7 linked regions of the Homo sapiens genome follow. The protein of the gene in region 2 purifies or fractionates together with the protein of the main gene of each other region. This does not show direct contact. Each region holds a gene or a part of one and is shown on either strand. Other genes may lie near its edges.

Region 1 (4,723 bases), on a different chromosome or scaffold from region 2:
CTAAATGATAGTAACAGGTACTTACTTCTACTCCAAATAATACAACACTCCTGACTCCGGGAATCTCTGCTAATGCCGCTTCTACTTCTGGTAATACCATTGAAAACTTGGTCTTTGGAAGTACCAGTTTTACACCTGTTAAATCAATTTCTTGAACCGTGCTCCCAAGACCTTTAGGGTATTGTTCTGTTACAATAACAGGAATTCCTAAAATCCGGGCCCCTTGCAACTGAAAAAAAATAACCAAACACAAAAACAATTAGCTATATACATATATGTGTATATATGAGTGTATATGATGATTCAGCAAATATGACCAAATAAGTAAACAAGCATACCAATCTCTGTCCCACGCTAATAATATCCCCAAAATACTTGATGGCTGGTCTGAACCTTTCCTGCATATCACAGCAGAAAAACACAGTGCTTGAAGGTGTAAGATTTCCCAGGGTAGTGAGCTGAGGAAAAAAGAAAAAGAATGATTTAGCACTTGTTGTACAATGACATTTATTTTCAGTGGAGGTCAATAAAGGAAGAAAAATGGTCCTATTGTTTGAGCCAGTAAGTCAATTTCTACCGCTATTATCCAAAAAAAGTATCTGAATTACAGGAAAAAAAAAAACTCAAAAAGATGTTCTCTGAATTGCTTTTAATAGCGGAAATTAGAAATGAACCAGCCAACAATACAGATATGATATAACACATTTTAACACATTCACATGACAAAACATTTTTTAGCCAATTAAAAAACATATGTATATGTCTTCAAAGAATTCATACCATCCATGGAAAAATACTCATAATGTTAATTTTTAAAAAGTGCAGTTCAATAGTATTTCAATAATGTAAAAATATGAATAAAAGTAGTAGTACATTACAATATTAACAAGTGGTTATATAATTGGGGTGTTGGTAATTTCTTTTTTTATACCATTCCTATATTTTCCAAGTGTTATTTAAACACATTTCCTGAATGTTATTTAAAGAAATTTCTTTATAATCAGAAAAAGTGTTACAATAGAAAAAAAATCTGATGTTGCTGCTTGTAAGTATAAAAAGTAAAACTTAAAATATCTGTAGCAGGAACATAAAAACTAAAAACAAAAAACAGACAGAAGCAAATCCAGAATTACTGCTATCATCAAGACAGAAATATGAAAATGCTATTCTCAAGAATAATTTTTAGAGTTCAAACAAAATGCAACGAAATGATACCAAGCACACCACTGCTGTTAAATGAACTGTCGTTTACTTCACAAGGAAGAGACCTATATTTGACATCTCCATTCTTAAACTATAGTTATCACGATAAGGAAAGTCAATGAATTAAGATGAAAAGTGGATATTAGATTACCAAACCTCATATTAGCTGCTGTAGTTGGTCTATAACAATTTGGGCCCAATATGGATCCACCAAAAAGCAAAAATCACCATTAAATATGAGAATTTACTCTCACTGGATTCTTAAAAGTCTGAGGTGCTTTTCTTTCTTTTGCAAATTGCAGGAAGTACTGTAAAGGATGTGTTCTGGTCCTGAATGAACCATTATCAATACCCTTACTAGCCGCTCCCTTAAATCATCCCTCTAATTATCCTACTTTGTTTCCCCTAAAACCACCTACAGATAACTATTATTAATAATATTCTAAAGGAGTCTGTGTCTGGATTACATGGTGTGGCTTCACCACCAACACAGCCTTAGACTCTCCTTAGTATCTCTGCAGGGGTTGACTCTCTGGAAACAATTACTACATGAATTAAATTAACCATTAAGAAATCTTTAATCCTTAATGATATAACTGTTCTAATTGGTTTGCACTTTGTTTTATCTATGTCCTGGTCTGAAGTACCCTGGCACTTTAATCTCCCTCTGGTACTGACTCTATAGATGTGTATTAACTAGCTATGCACAATCCAATACCAAATTCATGTTAGAATGTGAGAGCCATCTGTAATTCTTACTCTATGTATAGGGTTTTCCTACTTTTCCAATAAAGCATGATTAAAATAAATTCTCAAGCATATTATATGTTCTAGCTTTGGCTGTTTCTTTGCTTAATTTTAAATGCAAGTATTATGCCTCTGCTTTGGTCATTTTCAAAAGCAGTGACTAGGATCTTATATACAAATATAAATGCATTGCTGGGAAGGCTAATTTTTGTGCATTTAGGATACTATTTTAAAAACCAATCACTAAATTCTCTGTAAACATCAAATATTGACTCAAAAGGCTCAATATCTACATTTTTATAAATTTGAATCATGGACTCGTAGGCATCCACAATGTGTTTAGGGCACACTACATAAAGCAGTTTGCCTGCAGCAGGCCTACTGAAATAACCATAATGCAAGTAAGCCAGTCTCACCGTTTCACAACAGGTGAGAACCAGCAAAAACAAAAAAAAATTTGAAAAATAAAATTCCTGGGCAGTTGCGTAAATGTGGTGGAGGCCATTCACTAACATGCTTAGAGCTTACACTTGCTTAGAATTCCAGCTCTCAGATCCTATTTTATACTGTATTGACTACCTCTGTATACATTCCTAACAAGTTTCATTGTCTGGATTCTAAATTAACAGAAGGCTATAAACAGCAAATCAGAAAGGAAACTGCTGGAGGCAGGCAAACTGATAGCAGCAAGAAATGATGGCTGACAGAGAAAAGATTCAAAATACAATAAAAACAGATCAAAACTCAAATAATGCTACAGTCTAGACCTCCAGTGGAAGAGTAAAAAGCTGTTCTAACTTATAAATTAGGAAAACATCATTCCAGCACACTCATTAAGAAAACTGTTAAATTATATATTTCAGAAGGACTACATTATAAAATGGTCAAGATATTTTTAAGTTGAGGTGTTTAAAAGAATAAATCCTTACCTACCCAGGAATCCTAATATCCAGAGTTGTGGTCTCCAGTTCTTGCTAGCTGGTGTTTCCTGCCCTTCATTTTAGCTATGGGTTCTGGACAGGGGACTGCATCAGATGTGTCATATTAGACACACATTGAGGAGGTCAAAAATACAGCCCTAAAATCCTCACTGCCCTGGGAAATCTCTCTAGTATAGGAACTTACCATCCACAAACTCAGTAAACAAAGAAACCATAGAGAATACAGTGGCAAGGCATGTTTTTAAAGCAGAGTACAGGTTACAATTTACTGAATAAAAAATACCCTACCTTTCATAGACATTCTCCACATGCTGTTGAATATGATGTGGAGAGTATCTATGTAAGGTGTTTAACTCCCAACATCCTCTTGAATGTGGCTGCACTTAGTACTCTGCTTCTTATGAGGAGAGTATAGAGGGGGAAGAGTAACTTTACAATGGAGAGACCTGACGACTGTGTCTCAGCCAGGTGATCAAGATTAATGTCATTAATGACATCATGTTAATAACATGTACCTTTGATATGATGTAATGAGAATGACCCTTGTGACCTTCCTCTTGAAATTTCACAACCCCGATCCAACAATGAGAAAAACATCAAATGAATCAAAATTGAGGGACATTCTACCAAAATATCTGACCAGTGCTCCTCAAAACTGTCAAGGTCATTAAAAACAAAGTTGAGAAACTGCTATAGACTAGAGGAGCCAAAGGAGACAAGACAACAAAATGTAATTGGTATCCTAGTTTGGATTTTGGAACAGAAAAAGGACATTAGGGAAAAGCTAGTGAAATATGAATAAAGTGTGGTTTAGTTAATAGTAACGTACCAATGTTGGTTCTTTGGTTGTGACAAATGTACTGCAGGAATATCAAATGTTAATGTTAGGGAATCCAGCTGGGCATGGTGGCTCATGCTGGTAATCCCAGCACTTCGGAGGCCAAGGTGGGAGGATCACTTAAGCCCAGGATTGCAAGAGCAGCCTAGGCAACACAGTGAGACCTTGTCTCTACAAAACATATTTTTTTGAGACAGAGTCTCACTCTGTCGCCCAGGCTGGAGTGCAGTGGCGTGATCTCGACTCATTGCAACCTCCACCTTCTGGTTCAAGCGATTCTTGTGCCTCAGCCTCCCAAGTAGCCGGGATTACAGGCGTGCACCACTGCACCCGGCTAATTTTGGTACTGCTAATAGAGATGGGGTTTCACCATGTTGCCCAGGCTGGTCTTGAATTCCTGGGCTCAAGGGATCTGCCTGCCTTGGCCTCCCAAAGTGCTGGGATTACAGGTGTGAACCACTACACCCAACCCAACCATATATATATATATATTTTTTTTTTTTTTTTTTTTTTTTTTTTTTTTGATTAGCTGAGCTTGGTGGCCCAGCTCCTCAGGAGGCTGAGGTGGGAAGATCCTCTGAGAACGGGAGGTCGAGGCTACAGTCCAGCCTGGGCAACAGAGCAAGACCCTGTCTCACAAACAAACAAACAAACAAACAAACAAAAACAATAGGGAATCTGGGTACAGGAATATAGGAACTCTCTGTACTATCTTTACAACTTTATTGTAAATCTAAAGCTATTCTAAAATAAAAAGTTAGTTTTTTTTTTTTAATGGCCTCCCTATGCTATGATATTTGGGGGAATAACGTCTATACCTTACAAACAGAAAGGAACTTTTGTGGCTACCAAAAACATACTGAAAAACTTTAATCATGTCCAACCAATCCTCCCAAATCCTCACCCCAAATCCACATGAATTCCAACAGGCTGTTAAAATCATACAACTCTCTAAATTTCGGAAATTTCTTACTTTGACTCATGAAGTTCTCTT
Region 2 (4,723 bases):
TTACTAAGCATCTAAATTTATCATCCTTAAAGAATGCTGAGAAAGGAAGAATGTCTTCCTGGGTGGTTAAAGGATGTGTGGGTTCTGAGAGCAGCCTGCAAGCTGTTGATGCCTAAGAGGCTAAAGTCATGTGCCGCTGTATTTATGGTAGATTTTGGGCACATGTAACCAGCAGCACCTCTCTGTAGGAAGAACCCTGATTTTTTTTCTCAAAGAGTAAAAACGACCATTTAGGTGTTGAGGCTCCAGGTATACAGATGTGATCATTAAAAGTGATCATCAGAAATGTCAACACAACAGTCAATGTCCATCTTTTTCTGTGTTCAGAAATCCAATGTAATCCAATCCATGGAACAAACTGTGAAGCTGTGAGCTTCCCATATTTACATATATTATATTGCTTGCTCTTTAAAACCTGTAAGTGAATTTAGATCCTAAAGACCAGTTACTGAAAAGGTTTTGATAAAGACAATAAATCTTTTGCATTAAGCCATTACTCTAATCCCCATTAAAGAGATCACTTTATCTTTAAACCAAGGTGTGAAATCCTCCCAGCTTTCCCCAGGTTAATGATAAATTGAAACGATTCCATTAATAATCGATGGTGTGGGACTTGGAAAGGCTGGGGGTAAGGACAGGGACAGGTGCATAGAAGAGGTCTGGTCTCTCGTGAAGCCATTCTGTTTGCCACAGAGGACATGTAGATTTATCACTTCTTCCCAATATTCCCATTTGAGATCTAAGCAAAGGAAAGTGCTAGGTTACTTCTAATCAGAGCTAGCCACCCCTCATTCAATGGCCACATGCCAGGGCTACGCACACTCTTCACTCTCCACAGCCGCGTAGTTGCCAACTTCTTTGAAGCTGATGTTTCCCAGGTGGAGAATACCCGCCACTATCTGCAACACCAGCGTTTGCTCTTCTGCAAAGATCCCAATCACATTCATGGCGTGCTGGAAGAGAAAAGAGAAACTATCCAGAGAAGCTGGTCACCAGCTTTAAAAGCACCTTAGGAAGAAGCCAAGGCACAGCAGCTGCTCTAAATAAGGATGTGACAAGTACAGACGAGTTACAAAGAAAAAAAAAAAAAAAAGCCAAAACATAAGATTGGGTTGTGCAGTCACATGTGGCTTAGCTTGTGATGACAGCAGGACGTTCTTGTACAACATGGTCACTGCCCAATGCACACATTCTTCTCACGTCTCAAAGTCATGCTGGAAGGGCACTTCTGTCTCTAAGCATAGCATGCCATCCTCCAGGAATAAGAGAATACTCCAGGAGGAAAGAGACTCGGAAGAGTGGTAGTTGTACACAAAGTCTCCAAGTCCTGTCTTCATCCTTTGATGTGTTCTTGTTGCCAGCTTCCCCTCGAAGGTCGCTGCTGACCTTTCCACCTACTCAAAGTGGACTCGAGATCTTTCCCTTCATCAGGAGGGATAAGAATATATTGTACTTGCAAAAGGATCTTAATGAAAAATCTCCAGGAAATCCAATAAAAGCATCATTTAAAAGTCCAGTTTCTGAGGTCCCTTAAATGCAATAAATACCGCTAAAATGTCTAAATCTTAAGAGAAACATCTCCTAAGAAAACTACACTCTAGGACCAGTGTGCAGACTCCTTATTGGCACTTTTCCCCGCAGCTGCTTTGAGGCCATGTGACCTGTTGATACCATTTTGTTTCCTGGCACCCAGGACACAGTCTGTTTGAACTTTCTGTCCCTTTCAACCACAAATGTACTGAACCCACGCTGCTCATTCAGAGTCTACTGCTCAGTTCTGGATCTGGGTTGAGGAATAGTCCCCAGCTTGAAACAGACTCAAAGGGCAGTGGGTGGCAATGAAGGCCTTTGAGGCCAAGTGGGTGTTCAGCCTACCTCCAGAAAGTTCTACATTATTGCCCCCAGGATGGAACCCCTCCATAATCTACCTAGTTTCACAGCTTGGACCATAACATACATGCAATGTGAAGGGCATGGCACAGAAAAAGGGTCCTCTGCCCTAAACAATACAGAGGGGAAGAGAGTCTTCAAAACCAGAAAAGAAATAAGAGAAAAGACTAAAGACGTTCCAAAATGTCTAAACCTATTCAGTCCATAGACGTGCGGTTTGCTTAGCTTTTCTAAGGAAATAGCTCACGAATAGAGTAGGCCATCAGCAAACAGGTATGCTCAACGTATGAATCATTTTTGCCTATTTATCAGAGCTCCTGCAGGGTGATAATGATGAATTCATTTCTTTTTACCCATCTCAAATCATTAAGTGGTCCTCAGGCAACTGGCACATGGCTGTTTAAGGATACTGAAACATGTATGAGCATACAGAGTGCTCACAGAGAAAGAGGCGGACATTTCATGCAGCTCTTTGCTTTATTAACCTTCACTGCCCTTTTGGCCACAGGAAATGGCCAGTTGGGAGAGCAGATCCTGCCTGGCCCTGCGCCAGCACTTACCAGAGTTTCCTGAAACTCCCGCCTGTCGTCAATGTCATCAACCTTGTATGAGCCCGAGAGGCTCAGGTAGTAATAATAGTCCATGCTGGTGATGCCAAGGCTGTGTTTCTGCTCTGCAGAGGCGCCCTCGATGAGCTGGAGCAAGAGAACACAGGTTGAGCCATGATGTGGACCACAAGGCACCCGAAGTCACTCCTGCATCCTGCAGCCACCATCCCTAAGGACTTTCTATCTCTGCTTTCTAAAATTACAGGCAGTCCTGGCCCCCAAATATGTACTTGTAGTAGCCCCAGGTCATCTCTGCAAATTTTGATTCCTAACTCTGGAAAGACCTGCAAGAGCTGAGGATTTTCCATTGTCCACTGAAAGGAACTGGACTGCCACCCTCGGAAGAGTGGAAAGCAAAACAGATTTTAATTACTTAGTTCCTGCCCAACTTGCTATGGCTTTTTAAGCTGGCTTTTCCATGTTTCTCACTGCAGGGTGCATGTTAAAAAACTGCCATGCAGCTTCCTGCTCTCTGGTACTCTTTGCCTTCTTTAGAAGCTTTTCCTTGACTGTGAACTTCTCCAAGCTGCAGGATCTACTTCCTTGCCATGACATAACCACTTGCATTCTAGCTTCTCCCCTCACCACTCTGGCGGAACCCTTGCATGGCTATTTTTCAGTGCCTAAATCCAACAGCCTTTTTTTTGGCCCCCACACCCCAGCTCGTCCCTTTTGCCCAAGAGCTCTGACCATTTGATCCTGTCGATGTCGCCCTGAGGCTTCCCTGGCTTGGTGACACTGCAGGATCCTGGCTTTCCTCCTTATCCTTCAACTACTTCCCTGCTGGCTCTTCAATGCCTCCCGATCCTACATATCTAGAAAGTCCCCTGGTCCTGTGTGGCAGGATTTTCTCCCCACATCCACTCCCAAGTATTTCGTAGCTTCAAGAATTTCTTTTTCTTTCTTTTCTTTTCTTTTTTTTTTTTTTGAGACGGAGTCTCACTCTGTCGCCCAGGCTGGAGTGCACTGGTGCGATCTCCGCTCCCTGCAAGCTCCGCCTCCCAGGTTCACGCCATTCTCCTGCCTCAGCCTCCTGAGTAGCTGGGACTACAGGCGCCCACCACCACGGCCAGCTAATTTTTTGTATTTTTAGTAGAGACAGGGTTTCACTGTGTTAGCCAGGATGGTCTCGATCTCCTGACCTCGTGATTCACCCACCTTGGCATCCCAAAGTGCTGGGATTACAGGCGTGAGCCACCGCACCCAGCCAAGAATTACTTTCATGTCAGAATCTTGAACCCCTGCGCCCATCAGTTCCCAGCCTCTATTCTGGTGGTTTCTGACTTAAGGGCAGAGAACTCCTGGGGGAGGGTTGGGGCTTGCATTTATTTAAAGAAGTCCTGACATCCATTATACACTTCCATCTAGCACTGGGTATTATTTATGTGAAATATATAATTATTTTTCACTTATCTATATATGTTGCTTTAATACAATTTTAAAAATGACTGAATTCACAGAAGTTTTAATCATTTATATACTTTTTCAACCAACAGGTACAAACTAAAAGAATTATTTGGCATTGCCTAAGATGTGTGTGTAATTGAAAAGATTGAATGTGAGCTACTTCCACAGTTTAATGTCCTTCTAATCCAGTGATCCACAAACTAAACACGAAATGAAACAAAACAAAACAAAAAACAGTGACCAGGTCTTTCTTCGAAGAAAGTCTAATGTGGATCTTCAATATAAAATACTAATAAGTAAATAGAACATAAAAAATTTGGTTATTAACATCATTATATTTTTTAAGTACTTAAAAACCTTTTACAAAAGTACCTGAATCAGGGCCAGGTGCAATGGCTCACGCCTGTAATCCTAGCACTTTGGGAGGCTGAGGTGGGTGGGTCACTTGAGTCCGAGAGTTAGAGACCAACCTGGGTAACATGGTGAAACCCCACCTCTACGAAAAATACAAAAATTAGCCAGGTGTGGTGGCATGTGCCTATAGTCCCAGCTACTTGGGAGGGTGAGGCAGGGGGATCATTTGAGCCCAGGATGCAGAGGTTGCAGTGAGCCAAGATTGTGCCACTGCACTCCAGCCTGGGCAAGAGAGCAAGACACTGTCTCAAATAAAAAAATAAATAAAATAAAAGTAGCTGACTCAGATGACTGCTGAAGCCTGTAACATAATCAAAAAGCACCCTGCAAGCTGCTCTGGCCCCAAACTCTCCATGACTTCTGAGGGTCTAGGTGGCAACTTTTCAATTTGGCATTAAAGATCC
Region 3 (3,790 bases), on a different chromosome or scaffold from region 2:
CGGCCATCATCCAGTTCGTTTAACCCCAAGGCCAACGCTCCTCCCCCTAGAGCCTACTCCCCCTTACTTCTGGGCTCCAGGTGTAGCCTAAGCCCCCAGCTACTTTCACCTTTCTCTTCCGGCCTTTATTCTTCAGGATGTGGATCTCGGCATTTGGGGATGCTGCCTGCTCCTGAACTGAAAGTAGGAATCGAGAATTGGAGTCAGGGCAAAGGGTACTTTTCACCCTCCCTGGTAGCCCTTCGATTCTTCCATTTCTGATTCCCCAGCTCCCCTCCATCCAGAGTTAACCTGTTGTGTTTCCACATGACCTTTTTTATACCCGCATTTAAAGGAATTTCAGTCAGTCTTGCATTATCTTCAATCCTCTACTCGTTTGTCCATCCCACTGTCCTAAACACCCGAGGGCAGAGCACCCCCAGCACTGCCTCAGAGCCTCCTCACCCCTCCCTGGGACTGGTATGTGGTGGGAGAATATGAATGACATGGAGACAGCTGCTCCTAACACTTCCTCCCTTATAGGATCTCAGCTGCCTTGGCCCCCCAGCCCCTGGAGTCAAACTTACTTAGCTGTAGGGGCATCACCACAGCCTTTTTCAGGGGCTTTGCCCCTGTGACTGTGCGATGTGAAAGGGGCCGGAGCATTGTGGGACAATGGTTCTCCTTTTCCTCAGCCTTCTGGGCCAACATCTTGGCCTCCAGTTCTTTTTGCTTCGTCTTAAGCCTCTGTTGGAAAGGATCAGGGAGATGTGATCCAGACCCAACTCCAGGGCAGCCTGAAGGGAGTGGGTTACCAGGGTGAGTATGCAAGGCTCTGAGCCCCCAGAGGGCAGGGCTAGGACCAGTGGGAGGTTACCAGGAGACAGGTGGAGCCTAACATAATTAAGGGCTTTCTGTGATTAGGGGGCTACCCAGAGGTGGAACAAGCCTCTGCAAATATTGAAGGGAAAGGCTTTTCAAGCACAGTCCTCAATTAATTGAGCTGGGCTTTAGGAAATGTAATGTTTAACATTTGTTGCTTTTACTTTGAACTTTTTCTTCTCACCCTCACATCTGGTCTCAATTGTCTGTCAAAGTTCAGCCATGTTAAGGACATTCAAGCAGAAGCTGGAGAACTTCCGGTATTGGGAGAAAACTGGACTCTAGTCCAGCCTGAGTGTCCTTCCCTGTCTGAAGATCCAAGGATTGCTTCTCAAGGCCAATAGGAATCCAGCTCCCACATCCCTAAAACACGTACCTCAATCTCTAGGTCCTTCTCTTCCACTGTCTTCATTAGCACCATCCGCTCTCGCTTTGGGGTACTCAACAGAGGGGCCCCCTGGCTCCCCTGGGAGGCAAGCAGACGGTCCAAGCTGAGGAGGCGCTCCAGCATGGCCGGGTCCATGCTGCTTAGCTTCTGTAGGGGGCTGAGCAGAAAAAGAAGTTGCTCCCCACCTACCTCCTCCCTCATCACCACCTACAGCAGCAGGACTCCCCTCACCACACCTTAACTTGGTATATCCTGTAGCTCCAGAACCTAATGTTAACTTGCTAGGCATCCAGTTTCTCTGGGTGCAGTGTCTTCATCAGGTGAAGTGACTGCTCGGGGATGCCAGGAAATCAGGCGAACACTTGAGTGCCAGGTATGAGAGACCTAAGACACTGCCCTGCCCTGGAGGCACTGTCTACTGAGGAAATCAAGAGACCATAATAAGGTGACAGCCAGGACAGTGCCTATCCATTTGGAGGAGCAGTTGCGGAAAACATCACAGAGGATGCCATCTTTAGCAGGGCTTTGAAATCCACCGAAGACCTCAGCTGCCAAGCTTCCCTGCTGTGGGCAGCTGGGAAGGCCTGTTCAAGCAGTCCTGACTGACTCTGAGCACGGTAAGGCTTAACATTCTTTTTTTTTTTTTTTTTTTTTTTTTGAGACAGGGTCTTGCTCTGTCACCCAGGCTGGAGTGCAGTGTTGAGATCACAGCTCACTATAGCCTTGGCCTCCTGAGGCTTAAGCAATCCCCCTGTCTCAGCCTCCTGAGTAGCTGGGTCCACAGGTGCATGCCACCATGCCCAGCTAATTTTTTTATTTTTTGTAGAGATGGGGTCTTACTATGTTGCCCAGGCTGGTCTTGAACTCCTGGGCTCAAGTGATCCACCCACCTTGGCCTCCCAAAGTGCTGGGATTACAGGTGTGAGCCACTGCGCCCAGTCAGCAACGTCTAACATTCATTTATTTTGCCTGGAATCTTGCCCCACACCTCCTCACATCTGTATCAATAATCTTTCCAGGTCAGTTTGATGCCACCTTTCCCATGACGCCAAGCTTAACAATGCATCTCCCTTCCTATGCTGTGAACTGGCTCCTGGAGGACAGGGACACTCCTGTGCTTTCCATGCTAGTGCCTTGGAAAAACAGGATCAGAACATACGTGGGCAAACACTAGAAGTCATCTCTTCCTTCCTGACTCTCACAGCAGCAGCAGCTACTCCTTCCTGATTCTGAATTCTCCACCTGGTATCATATACTGATGTTCCCATCTGACTTGCTCTCCTGTGAGGCCCCCAAGCTCTGGGTCTGCTGGGTTTGATGTGCCCAACTCTGAGCTTCCCCTTACTCAGAGTGCCTGTCTGACAGCTTACCTGTGCACATTTCTGGGTGCACACAGCAGTGGGGAGTGCTGACAGATGGTTTGGGAAAGACAAGACTGAGAGATGGGGTCATGAGTGCACAAGCATCTTCTTGTGTGTGGCATCTTCCTTAACTACAGTAGCCCCCTGGGACAGAGTGGGCACTAACCCTTGGCCACCTCAGGTCACCTCTGTTTAGTAGTTCACAGGCTTTATTTGGGCTAGGGGTAGAAACAGGGCAAAGTTAAAACTGCAACTGGCTCCTGGGGGGTGGAGGGAATAGCGCAAGGGCTAAGTGGCCAGACACAGAAAGCAAGACCCCTGAACAGAGATGACCTGAGGATTAGTACATACTGGGCCATGAGGTGGGGTGATTGGAGTTGGGGCAGGAGGTGACACAAAGGACTTAGTTTAGAGGCTTTATCTGGATTGAGGGTAGACGCAGTTAGGACAGCAGCTGGCTCCCCGGAGAGTCATGGAGAAGCTGGGCACTGACACACAGACCAGATGGTCTCAGCAGGACAGCTCTTCCAAGTCTCCTTTGCTTTGCTCTCATGGATCTGAAAGATCTGATCCAGATCACTCCTTGAACCAGAAGCAAAAATGCTCATCCTTGAAACAGCTGTCCCAAAGTGAGAAGTTTTGCTGAAGGCTAAAGGGGTTGGAAAATGGAAAGGATCCCCAGGAGGAGGCCTCCTTAGGTCCCCAAGGCAGCAGCACTGAGGAGAGATTAATCTTAGACTTTAGTGATTCAATGGAGTAGAATTTGGGGGGAATTTATTTATTTACTTATTTATTTATTGAGATGCAGTCTTGCTCTGTCACCTAGGCTGGAGTGCAGTGGCATGATCTTGGCTCACTGCAACTTTCACCTCCCAGATTCAAGCAATTCTTCCTGCCTCAGCCTCCTGAGTAGCTGGGATTACAGGTGCCCACTACCATGCCTGGCTAATTTTTGTATTTTTAGTAGAGATGGGGTTTCACCATGTTGGCCAGGCTGGTCTTGAACTCCTGACCTCAGGTGATCCACCCGTCTTGGCCTCCCAAAGTGCTGGGATTACAGGCGTGAGCCACCGTGCCTAGCCAGGGTTGAATTCACTTATTTACTTTGAGACGGAGTCTTGCTGTGTCGCCCAGGCTGGAGTGCAATGGCCACAATCTCAGCTCACTGCAACCTCTGCTT
Region 4 (4,033 bases), on a different chromosome or scaffold from region 2:
TGTTTTATCAACACAGTTTTATTTTTATTATAGTATACCACCTCTATAGATTTTTATACTACAATTAATGTTTCTTGTTCTTTAATGGACTCTAGTAAATTTGGCCTAAAAATATTTAAATGACTCAATGGTAAATTTTAACAGATGGAATACATGGCATATATAGAAATGTTGACTGAACTTAGAAAAAAAATTCTGAATGATTATATTAACATTTGTTTTAGAGTCATATTCTAAACAATTTAGTTCTCCCATTCATTATGTTGACTATACAGAACTGCATTTCTATTTCAGACATGTAAAAAATAAAAACCTTGCATTCTCATAAAATGTAATTACCTTTTAGCTGCTACCCATAGAACGGAGATATATGAATTACAGGCACATTTCGGAGGTATTGTGGGTTTGGTTCCAGACCACCCCCAATAAAGTGAGTCACACACACACACACACACACACATATATATATATATATTTTTTTGCTTTTCCAGTGCATATAAAAGTTAAGCTTACACTATAGCCTATTAAGTGTGCAACAGCCTTATGTCTAAGAAAAAAATGTATGTACCTTAATTTAAAAATGCTCTATTGCTAAAAAATGCTAACAATGATCTGAAACTTCAATGAGTTGTAGTTTTTTTGCTGGTGGAGGATCTTGCCCCAGTGAGGACAGCTGACTGATCAGGGAGGTCGTTGCTGAAGGCTAGGGTAGCTGTGGCAATTTCTTAAAGACTACAGTGAAGTTTGCTGCATCAGTGGACTCTTCTTACAAAAGATTTCTCTGTAGCATGTGATGGTGTTTGATAGCATTTTACCTACAGTAGAATGTTCAAAATTGGAGTCATCCTCTCAAATTCTGCCTCTGCTTTATCTACTAAGTTTATATAATCTAAGTCCTTTGTCATTTCAGTAATGTTAACAGCATCCTCACCAGTAGATTCCACCTTAATAAATCACATTCTTTGCTCATCTCTAAGAAGAAACTCCTTATCCATTCAAGTTTTATCACAAGATTGCAATAACTCAGTCACATCTCCAGGCTCTGCTTCTAATTCTAGTTCTCTTGCTATTTCCACCACGTCTGCAACTACTTCCTCCACTGAAGTCCTGAACCCCTCAAAGTCATCCATGAGGACTCGAATCTTCTTCCAAACTCTTGGAATGGTGAATCCTTTCCAGAAGGTGTTCAATTTACTTTGCCCAAATCCATCAGAGGAATCACTCACTGTCTATGGCAGCTCTGGCCTCACAAAACGTATTTCTTAAATAACAGACTTGAAAGTCAAAGTACTCCTTGATCCGTGGGCTACAGAATGAATGTTGTGTTAGGAGGCATGAAACATTTATCTCCTGGGACATCTCTATCAGAGCTCCTGAGTGATCAGGTACATTGTCAATGAGTAGCAATATTTTGAAAGGAATCCTTTTATCTAGGCAGGAGGTCTCTCAAGTGGGCTTAAAATATTCAATGAACAATGCTGTAAACAGATATGCTGCCATTCAGGCTTTGTCCCATTTATACAGGACAGGTAGAGTACATTTAGCATCATTAGGACCCTAGGATTTCGAAGAGGTAAATAATTGGCTTCAACTTAAAAGTCACCAGCTGCATTCGTCCCTACCAAGAGAAACGGCCTGTCCTTTGAAGATTTGAAGCCAGGTATAGACTTCCCCTCTCTAGCTATGAAAGACGGCATCTTCTTCCATTAGAAGGCTGTTTGTTGGCTGGGCGTGGTGGCTCACACCTGTAATCCCAGCACTTTGGGAGGCCAAGGTGGGCAGATCACGAGGGCAGGAGATCGAGACCATCCTGGCTAACATGGTGAAACCCGTCTCTACTAAAAATACAAAAAATTAGCTGGCTGTGGTGGCACGTGCCTGTAGTCCCAGCTACCCAAGAGGTTGAGGCAGAAGAATCGCTTGAACGCAGCAGGTGGCGGGTGTAGTGAGCTGAGTTTGCGCCACTGCACCTCAGGCTGGGTGACAGAGCAAGACTCCATCTCAAAAAAAAAAAAAAAAAAAAAAAAAGAAGGCTGGTCTACATTGAAAATCTGTTGGGTAGTGTAGCTACCTTCATTAATAACTTGCTGCTTCACCTTGCACTTTTATGTTATGGAGATGGCTTCTTTCCTTACCCTCATAAACCAACCTCTGCTAGCTTCAAACTTTTCTTCTGAAGCTTCCTCACTTCTCTCATCCTTCAGAGAATTGAAGAGGGTTAGAACCTTGCTTTGGATTAGGCTTTTGCTTAAGGGAATGTGTTGTAGCTGGTTTGATCTTCTATCCAGACCATTTAAAGTTTCTCCATATTAGCAATAAGGCTGTTTTGCTTTCTTATCATTTGTGTTCAATGGAATGGTACTTTTAATGTCCTTCCTGAACTTTTTCTTTGCATTCACAACTTGGCTGTTTAGCACAAGAGGCCCAGCTTTTGGCCTGTCTCAGCTTTTGACGTGCCTTACTCCCAAGCTTAATCATTTCTAGCTTTTTTTGTAAAATGAGAAACTTGACTCTTCCTTTCACTTGAACACTTAGAGACCATTGCAGGGTTATTAGTTGGACCAATTTCAATATATTTGTTTCTCAGGGAATAGGGACACCTGAGGAGAGGGAGAGAGTCTAGAGAACAGCCAGTAGGTGGAGCAGTAAGAACACCCACAGCATTTATCGACTAAGTTCACCACCTTGCATTAGTGTGGTTCCTAGTGACTCAAAATAATTATAATAGTAACATCAAAGATCATCATAACAGATACAGTAATGAAAAAGCTGGAAATATTGCAATAATTACCAAAATGCGACAGAGATAGGGAGTACATGCTGTTAGAAAAATGACACCAATAGACTTGCTTACCACCGAGTTGCCACAAATTTTCAATTTGTAAAAATAAATAGCACCTTGTAAAGAATAAAGTGAAGCACCAATAAAATGAGGTATGTCCGTATATATATAATAACAATGCTTTTCAAATAAGTGAATTACTTTAATTGTAATTATTTTAACTCTCATGCCAAAATTATTTCTTCAGTTCACTGCTACCTTCTTAGAAACAAATTTTTGTAGTTGAAAGGGATACCTTAATTTTATATGAATAAAAACAAAGGCCTTCATAGGTTTTTACTAATTCTACATTATCCAATTTAAAATATGAACCCAGAAAATTCAAAATTTAAGAGAAAAATAGGGGAACAATGCAGATGTGAAGCAGCAAGTTAACATGTCTTCAGTAACACTTAGCCTACCTGTCTGAACCAGCGGTTGCATTTTTTGTAAGCCTTCTTTTTTCTCTTTTACCAGTTTCTGGAGCAAATTCAGTTTGCCTTCCTGGATTCGTAAATTGTAATGACCTCAAAGCTTTAGCAGTTCTTCCCTGAAGAAAGGTAAACAAATTATCAACTCAAATCTTGACAACAGACAACAGATTAACATTTTATTTAATGTTAAACCAGACGATTCCCTAACATGGAAGACAGTCTGGAACACACAAAAAAGAAAACAAGGTTTTAGAGCCTAAGTGCAAGAAAATTTACATGGCCCTAGACCATATTCAAAGCATATTGGTTAATGTATTAGTAACATTTCCATTATTTTATTTTAGTCTCTGGTATATTAGGAGCAGAGGAGGAAGGCATTGTGAAAACTGCAATGGCTGCTGCCAACACAGGAGAGAAGGCACAAAAACTGCTATATAATCCAGTGGCACATAACTGATTTCCTAACAATCCTGGGTCCTTATTATTGTATTTTATATATTTTTAAGAGCAGAGAATATGATTTCAAGTTCTAGAATAGTATTATAATCTTTTTGAAAAGTTTTGGTGAAACAAAATTTCGGTGTTTAAGGGTTTATGTTTGTTATTTGGGGAGGAAAGAGCTGCAGCTGATATATTCTACAAGAACATTGGATAGATAAGGTGAAGACATCTACAATGACACTATCAGCAAGTATCTAGTATGAACTACAGATAAACTGGGCCCTCAAGATGTTCCTCTGAGAAGACAACAACAGGAAAATAGTATAATTTCAAATTT
Region 5 (4,723 bases), on a different chromosome or scaffold from region 2:
GAGAATATAGAGAATAGTGCTGCATATGCCATCAATGTTAAACAAAAGGTGGGGGGTACCATTTGAGTATTAAGAGGTTGCTTTAAGAACTGTGATAGAATCTGTGAGGAGCTCCCCAAGAGATCAAAGTCTTGATGGACTATTGGGAGGTTTTGTGGCGTCTCAAGCCTTCTGAGGCTGGCTTCAGGGCAGACAAGGGCCCAGCGCCTTCAGAGACTGTGAGGCTGCACAGGTGGGCCCAATCCAGGAGAGCAAGCCGTCCAAACTCCAGGAACTGGCTTTCATGAAAATCTGGAAGAAACCCAACCTGCCACCCATCATGCGTAACGAAAGACAAACTCACAACCTGGCTCAATTTTCTCTCTGCAAAATATCCCATCCTGCTGGGGACACCCTAGACACACTTTGGTGTCCTTCCCTTATCTAGATCTGATTGAGCCTTCCCTGGCTTTCCTCCTTATTCGCTGTTTTTGTTTTGTTTTGAGATGGGGTCTCACCTTGTCACCCAAGCTGCAGTGCAGTGGTGCGATCTCAGCTCACCGTGACTTCTTCCTCCCAGGCTCAAGCGATCCTCCCACCTCAGCCTCTGGAGTAGCTGGGTCCACAGGCATGTGCCACCATGCCCAGCTAATTTTTGGGCGGGGTATTTTTGGTACAGACAAGATTTCACCGTGTTGCCCAGGCTAGCTGGTATCGAACCCCTGAGGCTCTGCAAGTCACACTATCACTTGAGAGCGTCATGTCCTCTCTGGCCTCCACCAGACTGAGTAACCAGGAGTCCCTCATAAGGTAAACTACTGACAGTGGAGAGCCAGTGCTTGTCCCTCAGGTTAGCCAATGTCGCCATCTAGAGGCAATTCAAAAGTCTCTTGCAGTGAGGGGTAACTATTTTTGTAATTCTTGAAATGTCCTTTTTCTTGCCCTTAGAAGTTCAGAATCCCTCTCACCCATGGTGTAGCTTTGGCTGCGTCTGTGACCCCAGGGAAGCCCTCCTCCAAAGCCAGGCTGGCACAATGCCAAGGCACCAGCATAGCTGCTTCCCGTCGGTTCCAATGCCCCCACCTGTTATATTCAGTCACTACACCAGATCATAAAAAATAAATCTTTTAATTGCTTTGTAATTGGCACAGATGGTGTAATTCAAACTCACATTTTTATTTAATAGACTCTGAAATATCACACTGTAGCTCTCACTGAAATAATACAGGAATCATAATGTTTAAGTTTACAAAAGTACATTTGGCAGCATCATGATGTTTTGAAAGTTACCTGTAAAATCAAAGACTGGGGCTTCAAAAAATAAGAGAAAAAGCCATCTGGAAAATAAAAAACAAGCCATACTGAAGCCATTTGTCATGACTATTAGAGAATGGTGTTTTTGGGTTTTTTGAGGATCTTGCTACTTTATTAATGATCCAGAAGAGTTGCACAATTCTGGCTTGTAAATACAGTGGGGAAGCTGTAACTATGCCTGGAAAGTGCTCCTCAGGACAAGGAATGTCAAAGCCAGGCTTTGTTGAAACCATGTGCCTGAAAAGGCTTTGAAGGAATCTTTCGTTTCTTAGGAGTAATGAGATTCACTGGGTTTTGATTTAAAAAATCACCCTAAAGAGGATTATAGTGGAGGAGATAATCATTAAATTCTCATCACTGTAGGTCCCAGAGGAAAAACGCAAAGTCCTGTCTCTTCAGGATGATGTCAGAAAGGCCCAAGTCCTCCTTATGTTATCCTTTAATTTCAGGGATAAAACAGAGTGGCAGTGACACAAGCTCTCACTACCAAATTAATTTTTTTTTTAAGAGACAGGCTGTCTCTAAAAAAGTTGGGGGGTATTATCTGCATATTAAAAGGTTGCTTTAAGAAATGTGACAGCATCTATGAAGAACTTCCCAAGAGATCAAAGCCTTCATGGACTATTGGGATTTTTTTTTTTTTTTTAAGGCAGGAGTACAGTGGTGCAATCATAGCTCACTGCAGCCTCAAACTCCTGGGCTCAAGTGATTCTTCCATTCTTCCACCTCAGCCACCATGCCCAGTTAATTTTTAAATTTTTTTGTAGAGACGGGGGGTGGGGCTCCTGCTGTTGCTGAGGCTGGTCTTGAACTCCTAGGCTCAGGTGATCCTTCCGCCTCTGTCTCCCAAATTGCTGGGATTACAGGCATGAGTCACCATGCCTGGCCAGCAACAATTTGTGTTTTGAGAATTAACCTGAGCCATTTCCTGAAGCTACCTACACTGCCATTCCACAGTTGGGAATATCTTCACGTATCTACCGGCTAGGGAAGAATCTGGGGGCAGAAATCACCTTATTCCAGAGCAGCAATTTAGACGACGTAGTAGGAGTTTGTAGGGAGATGTTAACCATAAGGAATTTTCCTATTAAAATGAGATGAAAAAGGGGAATCCCTCTGACTTCCACGATTATAGGCATCAGTGACCAAATTTTAACCTGGAAAAGGCATTCATGGATCAGTTCATGCTCCTGGGCAGAATTCAATATTGAACATGATTCCTAGCTATTGATTTGGTATCTGTTCTGCAGAAATGTTTGAATTTCTCAAACTCAATCCAAAGCCATTGCCTGAAGCAAGCTTCCTATGTCAGAGACTAAGCACAGATGGTTTCCATCAACACACGTGATCATTAGTGCTCTCCACAGGTCACAGGAGAGCAGGACTGCGCTGGGACACAGGGAATATCGAAATGAAAATCTAGGTTAGTGCATAGTTAGTGCTCTCAGTATTCCCTGGCTCAGTGCTCCTGTGCCACCTCCAGCGGGGCCTTCACGTCTGCTGCGCACTTGTCCGGGGTGGGTTTCTTTGAGTAATCCCGCTCTCCAAAAATCGTGCTTCCTATTCGGACATTTGTAGATCCTACTTCAACCTGTGGGAAAAAAGAGAAGGTATCGAGGACCAGGTTTAAAATAATAAAATGGAGCCAGTGCTGAAGCTGTGCCCCCATTCTGGCTCTCAAGAGCCTTCTATGGACGGGGCGTGGTGGCTCACGCCTGTAATCCCAGCATTTTGGGAGGCCGAGGTGGGCAGATCACGAGATCAGGGGTTTGAGACCAGCCTGACCAACATGGAGAAACCCTGTCTCTATTAAAAATACAAAATTAGCCGGGCATAGTGGCACATGCCTGTAATCCCAGCTACTCGGGAGGCTGAAGCAGGAGAATTGCTTGAACCCAGGAGGTGGAGGTTGCGGTGAGCAGAGGTTGCGCCATTGCACTCCAGCCTGGGCAACAAGAGCGAAACTCCATCTCAAAAAAAACAAAAAAAAACAAAAACAGAGCCTTCTATGAATAATAACACAGCTGAAGATGGCTTCAGGATGATTGTTCTCCTCAGAGGTAAAATTGCCTCTGAGGGCATATATAGGAAACAAGTTGGGTTTCTCTGGATTTCCAGTGGTTGGAGAGTGTGGCTGGCACTCAGCTCGGAGGGGGTCAAGGACATTAGACGTCCAGTGTGAGACGCAGCCACACAGCACAGCCCACCTACCTCTCCAATGTGCCACGGTCAGGTAGATGAAAAAAATATCCTTATAATTATCTGATCAAATTCCATTTTACTTATCAATGCAATGTATTTTTGCACTGTTTTAAGAAATACAATTTTCCAGGAATGCAAGTTTATATTTTGATTTTTGAAACTTTATCAAGTTATTTGCTATTTCAGAAAATCATGTATTTGCGTTGCCAATCTAGCACACCTGTATCAGTTGATATTTACAGCTGTTGATGTACATATAAGATTGTTGGTGAATCTACACATAAGATTAAGCCTCGGACGGGTGCAGTGGCTCATGCCTGTAATCCCATCACTTTGGGAGGCCTAGGTGGGTGGATTACCTGAGGTCAGGAGTTCGAGACCAGCCTGGCCAATACGGTGAAACCCTGTCTTAACTAAAAATTCAAAAATTAGCTGGGCATTGTGGCAGGCGCCTGTAATCCCAGCTACTTGGGAGGCTGAAGCAGGAGAATCACTTGAACCTGGGAGGTGGAGGTTACAGTGAGCTGAGATCGCGCCACTGCACTCCGGCCTGGGCAATAGAGCGAGACTCAGTCTCCAAAAAAAAACAAACAAACATGAAGCCTTAGGCTGCTTCATCGTGATTTGCTGTGATACAGCCATGCCCACGCACTTACGTAATGAAATGCCTTTCCAAAAATTATAGCTTAATTTCTTATTTTCCTTTAGACTACACTTATGGAATTATGTTTATAATTTATGAAATTATAATTATAATTAATTTCTTATTTCCTTTAGATTACACTTACGGAATTATATTTTGTTTTAAAAGTTCAGATGTCAGGCTATAATTTCTATACATTTCTTTTCTTTCTTTTGTTTTTTTTTTTTTTTTTTTTTTTTTGAGATGGAGTCTCGCTCTGTTGCCAGCCAGGCTGGAGTGCAGTGGCGCGACCTCGGCTCACTGCAATCTCCGCCTCCTGGGTTCAAGCGATTCTCCTGCCTCAGCCTCCTGAGTAGCTGGGATTACAGGCGTGCGCCACCACGCCCAGCTAATTTTTGTATTTTTAGGAGAGACGGGGTTTCACCATGTTGGTCAGGCTGGTCTCGAACTCCTGACCTCGTGATCTGCCCGGCTCGGCCTCCCAAAGTGCTGGGATTACAGGCGTGCGCCACCGCACCTGGCTCTTTTCAAAAAAGAAAGGGCATGGGGAATGGGAGATGCTGGAATAGCTGACACTGGGTACCT
Region 6 (4,723 bases), about 15 Mb from region 2:
GGAACCCAGGATCCTCCTGGCTCCCAGTCCTTGGCTCTAACCAGTGGACCACACAGCCTCCCTATCCCTGTACATGCCAGAATAGAAAATATAAGAAGGAATGTTTTTGTGTTGGCATTTGAAAAAATGCTTTTTAGATTTCCTTATTTTTTTTGAGAAAAGGTCCTAAGACCAAAACATTCCATCATTTCAACTTTTCCTAAACACCCCTCTTTTAGTATATGTGTATGATCATTTGAAAAAAGATTAAGTGAAATGAGGAATTCAGATTTAAGTATCAAGTATTATAAATGTAAACTGATATTTCACTCACATAGAAAAATACTACATCATTTTAGAAAGCTATTAAAGGTTTTACAATACTAAAGTGATTATTATAATCTCAATTTATACTCAAAATACTAGTCTCTGAACATTACTAATAATTGTTTCATATAATTTTTTTCTACCTTGAAGTACTCTATTCTGTATATATTAATAATTGGTAAGTTGTCTTCCTTGTGTCTTAATCACACTAACAATTTTACAAAATCTAGGACCTATTTGGACCTGTATTTTAAATTATGCAATTTCAAGAAACTGGTATTTTCTACCCACAAAATCTGTCACAGTGCTACCAAGAATAAATAAAAATCTACATATACACACACAAATAAAAACTCAACCTTAAAATTATCAGTGCCAGTTGGTATGGCAAAAAGGAAGAATTTAACGAACAGACAAAATGTATAAGCAGTTCTTTCCCCCTTATTATAAGGAATAACTTTAATAATCACAGTCAAACGATCATCTGGCCCCGGGAAAGTTTAGTCAGTTCTACTTTGAAAAAACAACAACAAAAAAGACTAAGTAAATTAATTCAAGCCTTGGTTGGGCCTAAATAAGATTCACTGTTTTATTTCTATAAACATTTAGATATGAGGAAACTGGAAAGGCAGATACAGCATGTAAATTCAAGTCACTGTTGATGCCTCTTCACCGATAGTGGCAAACTCATTGAGACAGGAGACAACTGAATCTGTACGTGGATACTACAGTTATTTTAATTAAATTACAGTAAAAGCCTTCCAATTATTCATTCAGGAATCTGAGGGTGTATAGCATGTATTTGCATTTTTAGAAAAAAACTATTTGTACCAGTCATCAAAGAGCAGATCATCCATGTGAGTACAGACTTGTGTTAGAAACTCATGAGATTTAGAGATCACAGGAATTTCTTTTTTTCTTCTTTTTTTTTTTTTGAGACGGAGTCTCCCACTGTCGCCCAGGCTGGAGTGCAATGGCAGACTCTCGGCTCACTGCAACCTCTGCCTCCCGAGTAGCTGGGATTACAGGCGCCTGCCACCATGCCCAGCTAATTTTTTTTGTATTTTTAGTAGAGACGAGGTTTCATTATGTTGGCCAGGCTGGTCTTGAACTCCTGACCTCGTGATCCGCCTGCCTTGGCCTCCCAAAGTGCTGGGATTACAGGCGTGAGCCACGGCACTCAGCCTAGATCATAGGAATTTCTTAGAGTCTACCTTGTCACCAACACAGACAATTCCCTATAGCACTCACAATCTACTCTTTGAAACGCTTTTGTTGGCCAGGCGCGGTGGCTCACGCCTGTAATCCCAGCACTTTGGGAGGCCAACGTGGGCGGATCACGAGGTCAGGAGTTCCAGACCAGCCTGACCAACATGATGAAACCCCGTCTCTATTAAAAATACAAAAATTAGCTGGGCGTGGTGATGCGCGCCTGCAATCCCAGCTTATCAGGAGGCTGAGGCAGGAGAATCGCTTGAATCTGGGAGGCCGAGTTTACAGTGAGCCAAGATCGCACCACTGCACTCCAGGCTGGGTGACAGAGCAAGACTGTTTCAAACAACAAACAAACAAACAAAAAAACAAGCTTTTGTTTCAGATTTCTCAAAATACATCTAGATAGAACAAATGGAAACCCTCAAGTGTGTAGGTTTTATAAATCTAGTTTAAAAGAGGATTGTTAATTTATAACACATTGTCATAACATGACTATCATTTGTTCCTCATTAGTAAATGAAAGCTCCAAGAGGGAAGAGCTTGTGTTGCTCACCACTGTTCCCTGGAATACTGGAGATGCTGAACAGAAATCATTATAATGAATGAAGTCATCAAAACAAAATCACTGGGTATACTTTAGTAAAGTGAGGTAAAATTAGCATAAATTACAATATACTTTTGTGAACAGAAAATACCATTTCCCATTTGTGTGACTGCAGCTTACTTATTTTGACCCTTTAGATTAAAAAACAAAAGATACCACAGCTTTATTTAGAATAAAAAACCTTCCAAAATATGAACATTAGGAAAAGCCTTTCAGTATACTTGCAACCACTGAATAATAAAGGTACTGTTAACAGCAGAAAATACACTTTAGGATTTTCCAGTAAGACAACATGGGAAAAGTATTTAAGAAAATTTATACTCAGCTGGGCTGGGTGCAGTGGCTCACGCCTGTAATGCCAGCAGTTTGGGAGGCCAAAGTGGGTGGATCACTTGAGGTCAGGAGTTCAAGACCAGCCTGGCCAATATGATGAAACCCCATCTCTACTAAAAACACTAAAAATTAGCCAGGTGTGGTGGCACACACCTGTAGTCCCAGCTACTCGAGAGGCTGAGGCAGGAGAATCTTTTAAACTCAGAAGGCAGAGATTGCAAACTGCACTCCAGCCTGGGCAACAGAGTGAGAATCCGCCTCAAAAAAAAAAAAAAAGAAAAAGAAAGAAAGAAATAGAGAAAGAGAGAGGAGAGAAAGAAAGAAAGAAAGAGAGAGAGAAAGAACGAACGAACCAACCAACCAACCCAGCTATTAAAGTCTTTTTTTTTGAGATGGAGTTTTGCTCTTGTTGCCCAGGCTGGAGTGCAACGGCACGATCTCGGCTCACCATAACCTCCGCCTTCCGGGTTCAAGCGATTCTCCTGCCTCAGCCTCCCGAGTGGCTGGGATTACAGGCATGCGCCACCACGCCCACCTAAATTTTGTATTTTTAGTAGAGACACGGGGTTTCTCCATATTGGTGAGGCTGGCCTTGAACTCCTGACCTCAGGTGATTAGCCAGACTCAGCCTCCCAAAGTGCTGGGATTACAGGCGTGAGCCACCGCGCCTGGCCCTATTAAAGCTTTTATGAGCCGTTTGTGTCATCTCTCTCAGCTTTTGATCAAAAATTCAAAGATTAACCCCTCCTCTTAAAGGATACAGCAAGACTGCTGCAGTCTTACTATCTCACTTCAGCTGACAAAATAATGGAACTAATTATCATAATATTTTAAAATCACCACGGCACTCCCACTAACCAGGAAAACACTGCATCTGCTGGCTCAGGGCACACACAAGGAACTGAGTCCAGTCAGGATAACCTGAGTGACTAAACCCACTGTAATTTCCAATCAGATTCATGTAACATTTTCTTTCCATGGAAGATAAATTTGCTTTCAAAAAAAGCAAGGGCTTAATTTGATCCTTTCTGTTAAAAAATAATTTTTATTTCTCTATGCCATTAAAAAGTAAATTAACATGCATTACCTCAGAGACATATGGAGATGAAACATCATGCACAACGTGGAAAAATTCCACACAACCCCCCCAACCCCCGTCTTCCCCAATCCCAAAAGAAATGAGGATATAGATGTCACAGTGAATAAAGGCACTGGATCTTTGTATCCTTTAAAGAACGTCTGTCTGGAGTTCCATCATTAGGAACTCTTTTAAAGAGTTTAGGGGCTTAAAAAATTCATTTATATTCACCATTCAACACATATGCAGCCAACTGAAAATGGCCATTAAAATGAAATAGAATCAGTAATTTCATAGATCAGTGTGACAGACATTTCCACTATTTCTTAATTAAATTTACCTGACCAGTTGCTTTTTAGGGTCTAGTATGTTCAGTAACTTGTCTGCATACACCTTCTTAGAAGCAGTAAAAAGAATGATCTATAAATTCAGGGGAAAAGAAGTAATCATTATACATGGTCTAAATATGGGTACTATATTGAATAAAATAAAAATACATATGTAATTAGCTTAAGCATGTTTACCTCATACATCTGAGACATTCGTTCCAGGAATTCCCTGAAAAATGGTCTTAATCTCACATAAACCTAAGGAAATACAAAGATAAGTTTCAGCAAATAAACATACAATGGGAAACCACTTCTTTTTAAGATGTGCTGTATTCTAACTTTGATTATAATGAAAAAGTTCATGTTTTAAAGTATAGAAATATTAACTAAGTACCACTCAAACCAAGTATATTTCACATACAAGCGATCACTTAAACCAATCTCTTTGGTGGGATAATAATAATCACTGATGATCAAGTCATTTTTACTAATAGCAGCATACAGTACTTCACTGGTATGTAATTTTAATAAACATTTAAGCTAAAAATGGAAAGTTTCCCTCTGAGATTTTGATCCACCAGTAAGCTCCATCTTCCAGCCAGGTAGCATCCATCCAATTATTGTGTCCACCTCTAGCTGACCTGTCTCAATGACCTTCCTCAATAATTACTCAGAATTCCTTCAAACAACCACCTGCTAAAAATATCTCTATTTTAAATTTATATCAAGGTAAATTATATTCAAAAGGAGACGTCTGGATTGATGGGTTTAAATAACCTCAGTTTTTCAGAAATCAATCTTCCTATTCTACATTTAATGACTCAGATGTGGCATCTAAATTAGCACTATTGGCTACTT
Region 7 (4,723 bases), on a different chromosome or scaffold from region 2:
AAAGGAACAATCTTCAGGTAAATTCTCAAGAACTTGGCCTCTTTCTTATTTCCTGTTAGCCAAGTAAAACTGTCTTCTAGAGTGTGGTTCTGTAATGTTGTCCTGACTTTGGCTATTGACTCTCAGGTATGTGCAAGAGGTGAAATAATTGGCGTGAAAGTTCTAGGCATATTGGCTATGATTGACGAAGGGGAAACCGACTGGAAAGTCATTGCCATTAATGTGGATGATCCTGATGCAGCCAATTATAATGGTAAGAAAATTTGAAAAGTCTGAAGTCTTTCTAATTAATTCATAAGCACCACCATACTTAACCTATAATGACAGAATTGTAAGCCCTTACCTTCAAACTGTTAAAGGATGGAGGAACAAAGCACTGGACAAGCATTATTTCTATGACTGCACTTGTAATTAACTAAGTAAACTTTCTCCTTCATTCCAGGAAAGAAAAAATCTGGTAGGTTCTTACTGTTTTTTTGGTCCTTTCCTTCCCCACATACCAGCACTCAGTTGGTATGTTTATTTATTTTAAAACATTTAATTGAGATATTCACATATCAAAGAGTCACCATTGTAAAATGTACAATTCAGTGGTTTTTAGTATATTCACTAAGTTGTACAACCATCACCACTCTCTAATTGCAGAACATTTCATCAGCCCAGAGGAAATCCTGTATCCATGGGCAATCACTCCCTGTCCCCCTTCCCTCAGTCCCTGATGACTGCAGATCTACTTTGTGCCTATGGATTTGCCTATGCTGTTATTTCATGTAAATGGCATCATATAGGTGGCCTCTGTGTCTGGTTTATTTCACTTAGCGAAGTAAGTGTCTTCAGGATTCATCCGTATTGTAGTATGTATCAGCACTTCATTCCCTTTTTTTTTTTTTTTGGTGGTAAATTTTACATAACATAAAATTCACCATTTTAATTAAAGTGTGAAATTCAGTGGCATTTCATTCATTCACAAGGTTGTGCAGCCATCACCACTAGTTCAAGTCATTCCCTATTCCCTCCTCCTCTCCAGGCCCTGGCAGCCACTAATCTGCTTTTTGTCTTTATAGCTTTGCCTATTCTACCTATTCTAGGTATCTCATATACATGGACTGGTACAATATATGGATCTTTGTTGTTGCTGTTTCTGGTTTCTTTCACTTAGTATAATGTTTTCTAGGTTTATCCATATTGCATATTGTGGCATCTGTCAGTACTCCTTTTTATGGTTGAATATTATTCCATTGTGTGGATATACTACATTTTGTTTATCCATTCATCAGTTGATGGACATTTGGGTTGTTTTGGCTGTGTAATGCTGCCATGAACATTCCTGTACAAGTTTTTGTGTGGACTTATGTTTTTATTATTGGGTACATACATAGGAGTTGCCAAAGCTAGAACACTTTGAGCAAGAAAATAAAGTAGTATTGTAATATAACCTGGAACATAAAATAAATCTCCATGAGTCTATACTGACAAATAAATGATTGAATAAATAGACAAATGAGGAAGAATAGACAAATCTCAAAGCAGAAGAATTCCAAATAATTTATGCAGATACTCCATTCTCAAGGAGGTCCTTAATTGTGAGTTGTGCCTGGTGACTTCCTTCCAAAGAGTACAGTGTGGGTAAGGGAGAGGAGAGGATGACTTTAGAGCAGAGAAACTTGACAAACACTGCCTCAGCCAGGTGATGGAGGTCAATGTCAGCAGTGATAAGAGTCACCTTGAGAGCATGTTCCCTCAAAATGATGTGATGTATATTTGCATCTGTGTTAATTCATTGAAGAAGGACTGGAAGAATGCCAATCCTTTAATGTTTCGTTTCAATTTTGAAAGGTGAGAGTGCATTCACACCATCTGTTCACTACTTGGTAGTACGGCTCTGTTCTGTTGGTCCGTGTGTGCATTTCCAACGTGCTTCTTATGCAAGAGAACTTGGCATGCTGTGGCCACAATTAGTGAAGCCAAGCCCATCACTCTGTCAGCACTCATTTACTAAGGCTTTATTTTCCTGCAGTTCAGGTTATTAGAACCCTGAAAACTTTCTCGGGGTGGCTGGTCCCATGGCGCAAGTAGTATGCAGCTTTCCCTAATGTCAACCTAAGGCAGTGTCTATTGTCCATCCTATAGCTTGCCCCTGTGCATCTCTTCCATTTGCTGTCCCTGAGTTGTATTTATATAACGAAATTTAAACTTCAGTGTTTTCCTGAGTTCTGTGAACCATTTTAGCAAATTAGGGGACCTGGGGAGAGGATTGTAGAAACCCCTAATTTATAGCTGATAGTCAAAAGTACAGGAGGCATCTGAAGTGGGGCAGTCTTGTGAGACTGAGCCCCTAACCTTTGAGATCTGATGCTAACTCCAGGTAGATAGTATCAGAATCACAGTGAATTACTGAGCACTCAGTTGGTGTCTGAATAATTGGAGAATTAGTTTCTGTTATTGGAAAACATCAACATTTGCATGTTGGATTTCTGGATTTCCAAATTATTTCTATATCAGGTGACACATTTCATGTAAATTATAAGTTCTTTGAAATTTACTAGTGCTTAAACATTTCCCAGTGCATTCTGTAAAGTTTCCATACTTTTAGTGATATTATGATAATAGAATGCATGCTATTCTTTATGCAGATTATAAATTGGATTGAAGCGGCCGGGCGCGGTGGCTCACGCCTGTAATCCCAGCACTTTGGGAGGCCGAGGCAGGCGAATCATGAGGTCAGGAGATCGAGACCGTCCTAGCTAACACGAAACCCCATCTCTACTAAAAATACAAAAAAATTAGCCAGGCATGGTGGTGGGCACCTGTAGTCCCAGTTACTCAGGAGGCTGAGGCAGGAGAATGGCGTGAACCCGGGAGGCAGAGCTTGCAGTGAGCCGAGATTGCGCCACTGCACTCCAGCCTGGGAGACAGAGCGAGACTCCTTCTCAAAAAAAAAAAATAAATTGGAGTGAAGCAATGTTATCTTATACAAATATAAATAAGCTTTTGTTATTGTTGAATGTATTTCTCTTCCTCATAATACTTTTCCTAACTGACTTTTTAGGATGTGTATCTCTGTTTGCTTGCATTGAGCAGGAGTTTGTTATTTGAAGTGCAGTTTGATAACATTGAGGCTAGCCATTGTTGATGGCTATACAGAAACTTAAAATTTTTAAAGCAGTGCACTTTTCTGTCAGCCAGAACTAAAGTATTGTTATGTACAGTGCCTGTACTATCCAGCAAAGTCTAGTCACATTTAATACGTAACCCATCAATGGATATCAATCTAATCTATTTTTCTTATCTTTTAGTATGTAATAGTGTTGTGATCCTCTGACATAGCCTCTGCCTCTGGACCAGGGATAGTACCTCAAGCCTGTAATCCCAGTGCTTTGGGAAGCCAAGGCAGGAGGATTGCTTGAGCCCAGGAGTTTGAGACCAGCCTGGGCAACATGACGAGACCCCATTTCTACAAAAAATTTAAAAATTAGCTGGGCGTGTGCATGCTTATAGTCCCAGCTACTCAGGAGGCTGAGGTGAGAGGATCGCTGAACTGTGGAGGTCAAGGCTGCAGTGAGCCTTGTTCGGGCCACTGCATTCCAGCGTGGGTGACAGAGCGAGACCTTGTCTCTGAAAAAAAAAAAAAGATAACCTCTGTCTTTTTCAGTATCTTGTACACTTCTCATAGGAATTATCTACATTTGCCAAACTGGTTGTTTCATTATGTAGCCACCAGCTGTTTGCCCTTACCTAACAGAGATTACTATTGTACTGATTGTTCTCTGTACTTAGTGTCAGAGCTATTCAGAGATACTAGATGATTTTCTTTCAATGTATATGTGTATGGCTTCTCTTCTCAACAAGGGGCTTCGCTCCAATGTTATCTTGAACTTCCGTGATAAGTCATTCCACAGCTCTTTCAAAATAAGTACTTGGAATTTTTGTTGAGTGTATAATTATTTGTGCATCTTGAAATCTGCTTATTCTCTTCTTTCTTTTTAAAAAAATCATTCTCACTGTCATCTTATGCTTCTTCTCTTCTTAGATATCAATGATGTCAAACGGCTGAAACCTGGCTACTTAGAAGCTACTGTGGACTGGTTTAGAAGGTATAAGGTTCCTGATGGAAAACCAGAAAATGAGTTTGCGTTTAATGCAGAATTTAAAGATAAGGTAATATGTCATTCAGAACTGTAGCTTTAGGCTCATTTGTATTGAGACTCATAATTTAACCATATTGTTACCATCTAAAGATTCACAAAACAGAAGTCTGGAAACATAACACAGTCTTGGTGTTTATTTATTCACTTTAATATTCTCTTCCATTTTTAGAATAAGGAAATGATTCAGAAGAGACAAAGTATCAGGCTTTGGGGAAATGTTGATAATAGGAAAATAATACCTTTTTATCATTGTAATGCAAACCTCTTCAAATTATAGGACTTTGCCATTGATATTATTAAAAGCACTCATGACCATTGGAAAGCATTAGTGACTAAGAAAACGAATGGAAAAGGAATCAGTTGGTAAGTGTAAACACTTTGCATGTTTAACACACAAAGCAGACCAGCTTGCAGAAAAGGTTTTAATAATCATAAGACACTGTACTGTTACTTTCACTTAGAAAAGAGATACAAGGCTGGGTGCGGTGGCTCACACCTGTCATTCCAGCACTTTGGGAAGCCAAGGTGGATGGATTGCTTGAGCCCAGGAGTTGAAGACCAGCCTGGACAACATG

What was found.
Region 1: the proteins of MYO1E (region 2) and ISOC1 fractionate together in Homo sapiens (co-fractionation; one large-scale study listed by BioGRID). This does not show direct contact.
Region 3: the proteins of MYO1E (region 2) and KIF22 purify together in Homo sapiens (affinity purification with mass spectrometry; one large-scale study listed by BioGRID and IntAct). This does not show direct contact.
Region 4: the proteins of MYO1E (region 2) and ARL14EP purify together in Homo sapiens (co-immunoprecipitation; one study listed by IntAct). This does not show direct contact.
Region 5: the proteins of MYO1E (region 2) and PLPBP fractionate together in Homo sapiens (co-fractionation; one large-scale study listed by BioGRID). This does not show direct contact.
Region 6: the proteins of MYO1E (region 2) and CTDSPL2 purify together in Homo sapiens (affinity purification with mass spectrometry; one large-scale study listed by BioGRID and IntAct). This does not show direct contact.
Region 7: the proteins of MYO1E (region 2) and PPA1 fractionate together in Homo sapiens (co-fractionation; one large-scale study listed by BioGRID). This does not show direct contact.

The regions. Positions count from the first base shown.
Region 1 is NC_000005.10:129,100,691-129,105,413, reverse strand, and holds part of ISOC1 (isochorismatase domain-containing protein 1), read right to left. Parts: intron 459-4,723; coding exon 339-458; intron 230-338; coding exon 26-229; intron 1-25.
Region 2 is NC_000015.10:59,222,239-59,226,961, forward strand, and holds part of MYO1E (unconventional myosin-Ie), read right to left. Parts: intron 2,586-4,723; coding exon 2,451-2,585; intron 954-2,450; coding exon 821-953; intron 1-820. UniProt on the Homo sapiens protein: Actin-based motor molecule with ATPase activity. Unconventional myosins serve in intracellular movements. Their highly divergent tails bind to membranous compartments, which are then moved relative to actin filaments.
Region 3 is NC_000016.10:29,800,385-29,804,174, reverse strand, and holds part of KIF22 (kinesin-like protein KIF22), read right to left. Parts: exon of another isoform or gene 3,373-3,790; intron 1,407-3,372; coding exon 1,238-1,406; intron 777-1,237; coding exon of another isoform or gene 727-776; coding exon 567-726; intron 178-566; coding exon 110-177; exon of another isoform or gene 104-109; intron 1-103. UniProt on the Homo sapiens protein: Kinesin family member that is involved in spindle formation and the movements of chromosomes during mitosis and meiosis. Binds to microtubules and to DNA. Plays a role in congression of laterally attached chromosomes in NDC80-depleted cells.
Region 4 is NC_000011.10:30,332,204-30,336,236, reverse strand, and holds part of ARL14EP (ARL14 effector protein), read right to left. Parts: intron 3,372-4,033; coding exon 3,244-3,371; intron 1-3,243.
Region 5 is NC_000008.11:37,776,134-37,780,856, reverse strand, and holds the end of PLPBP (pyridoxal phosphate homeostasis protein), read right to left. Parts: intron 2,885-4,723; coding exon 2,753-2,884; 3' UTR 1,089-2,752; downstream 1-1,088. UniProt on the Homo sapiens protein: Pyridoxal 5'-phosphate (PLP)-binding protein, which may be involved in intracellular homeostatic regulation of pyridoxal 5'-phosphate (PLP), the active form of vitamin B6.
Region 6 is NC_000015.10:44,513,998-44,518,720, reverse strand, and holds part of CTDSPL2 (CTD small phosphatase-like protein 2), read right to left. Parts: intron 4,124-4,723; coding exon 4,061-4,123; intron 3,957-4,060; coding exon 3,877-3,956; intron 1-3,876. UniProt on the Homo sapiens protein: Probable phosphatase.
Region 7 is NC_000010.11:70,208,993-70,213,715, reverse strand, and holds part of PPA1 (inorganic pyrophosphatase), read left to right. Parts: intron 1-126; coding exon 127-253; intron 254-4,030; coding exon 4,031-4,158; intron 4,159-4,425; coding exon 4,426-4,511; intron 4,512-4,723.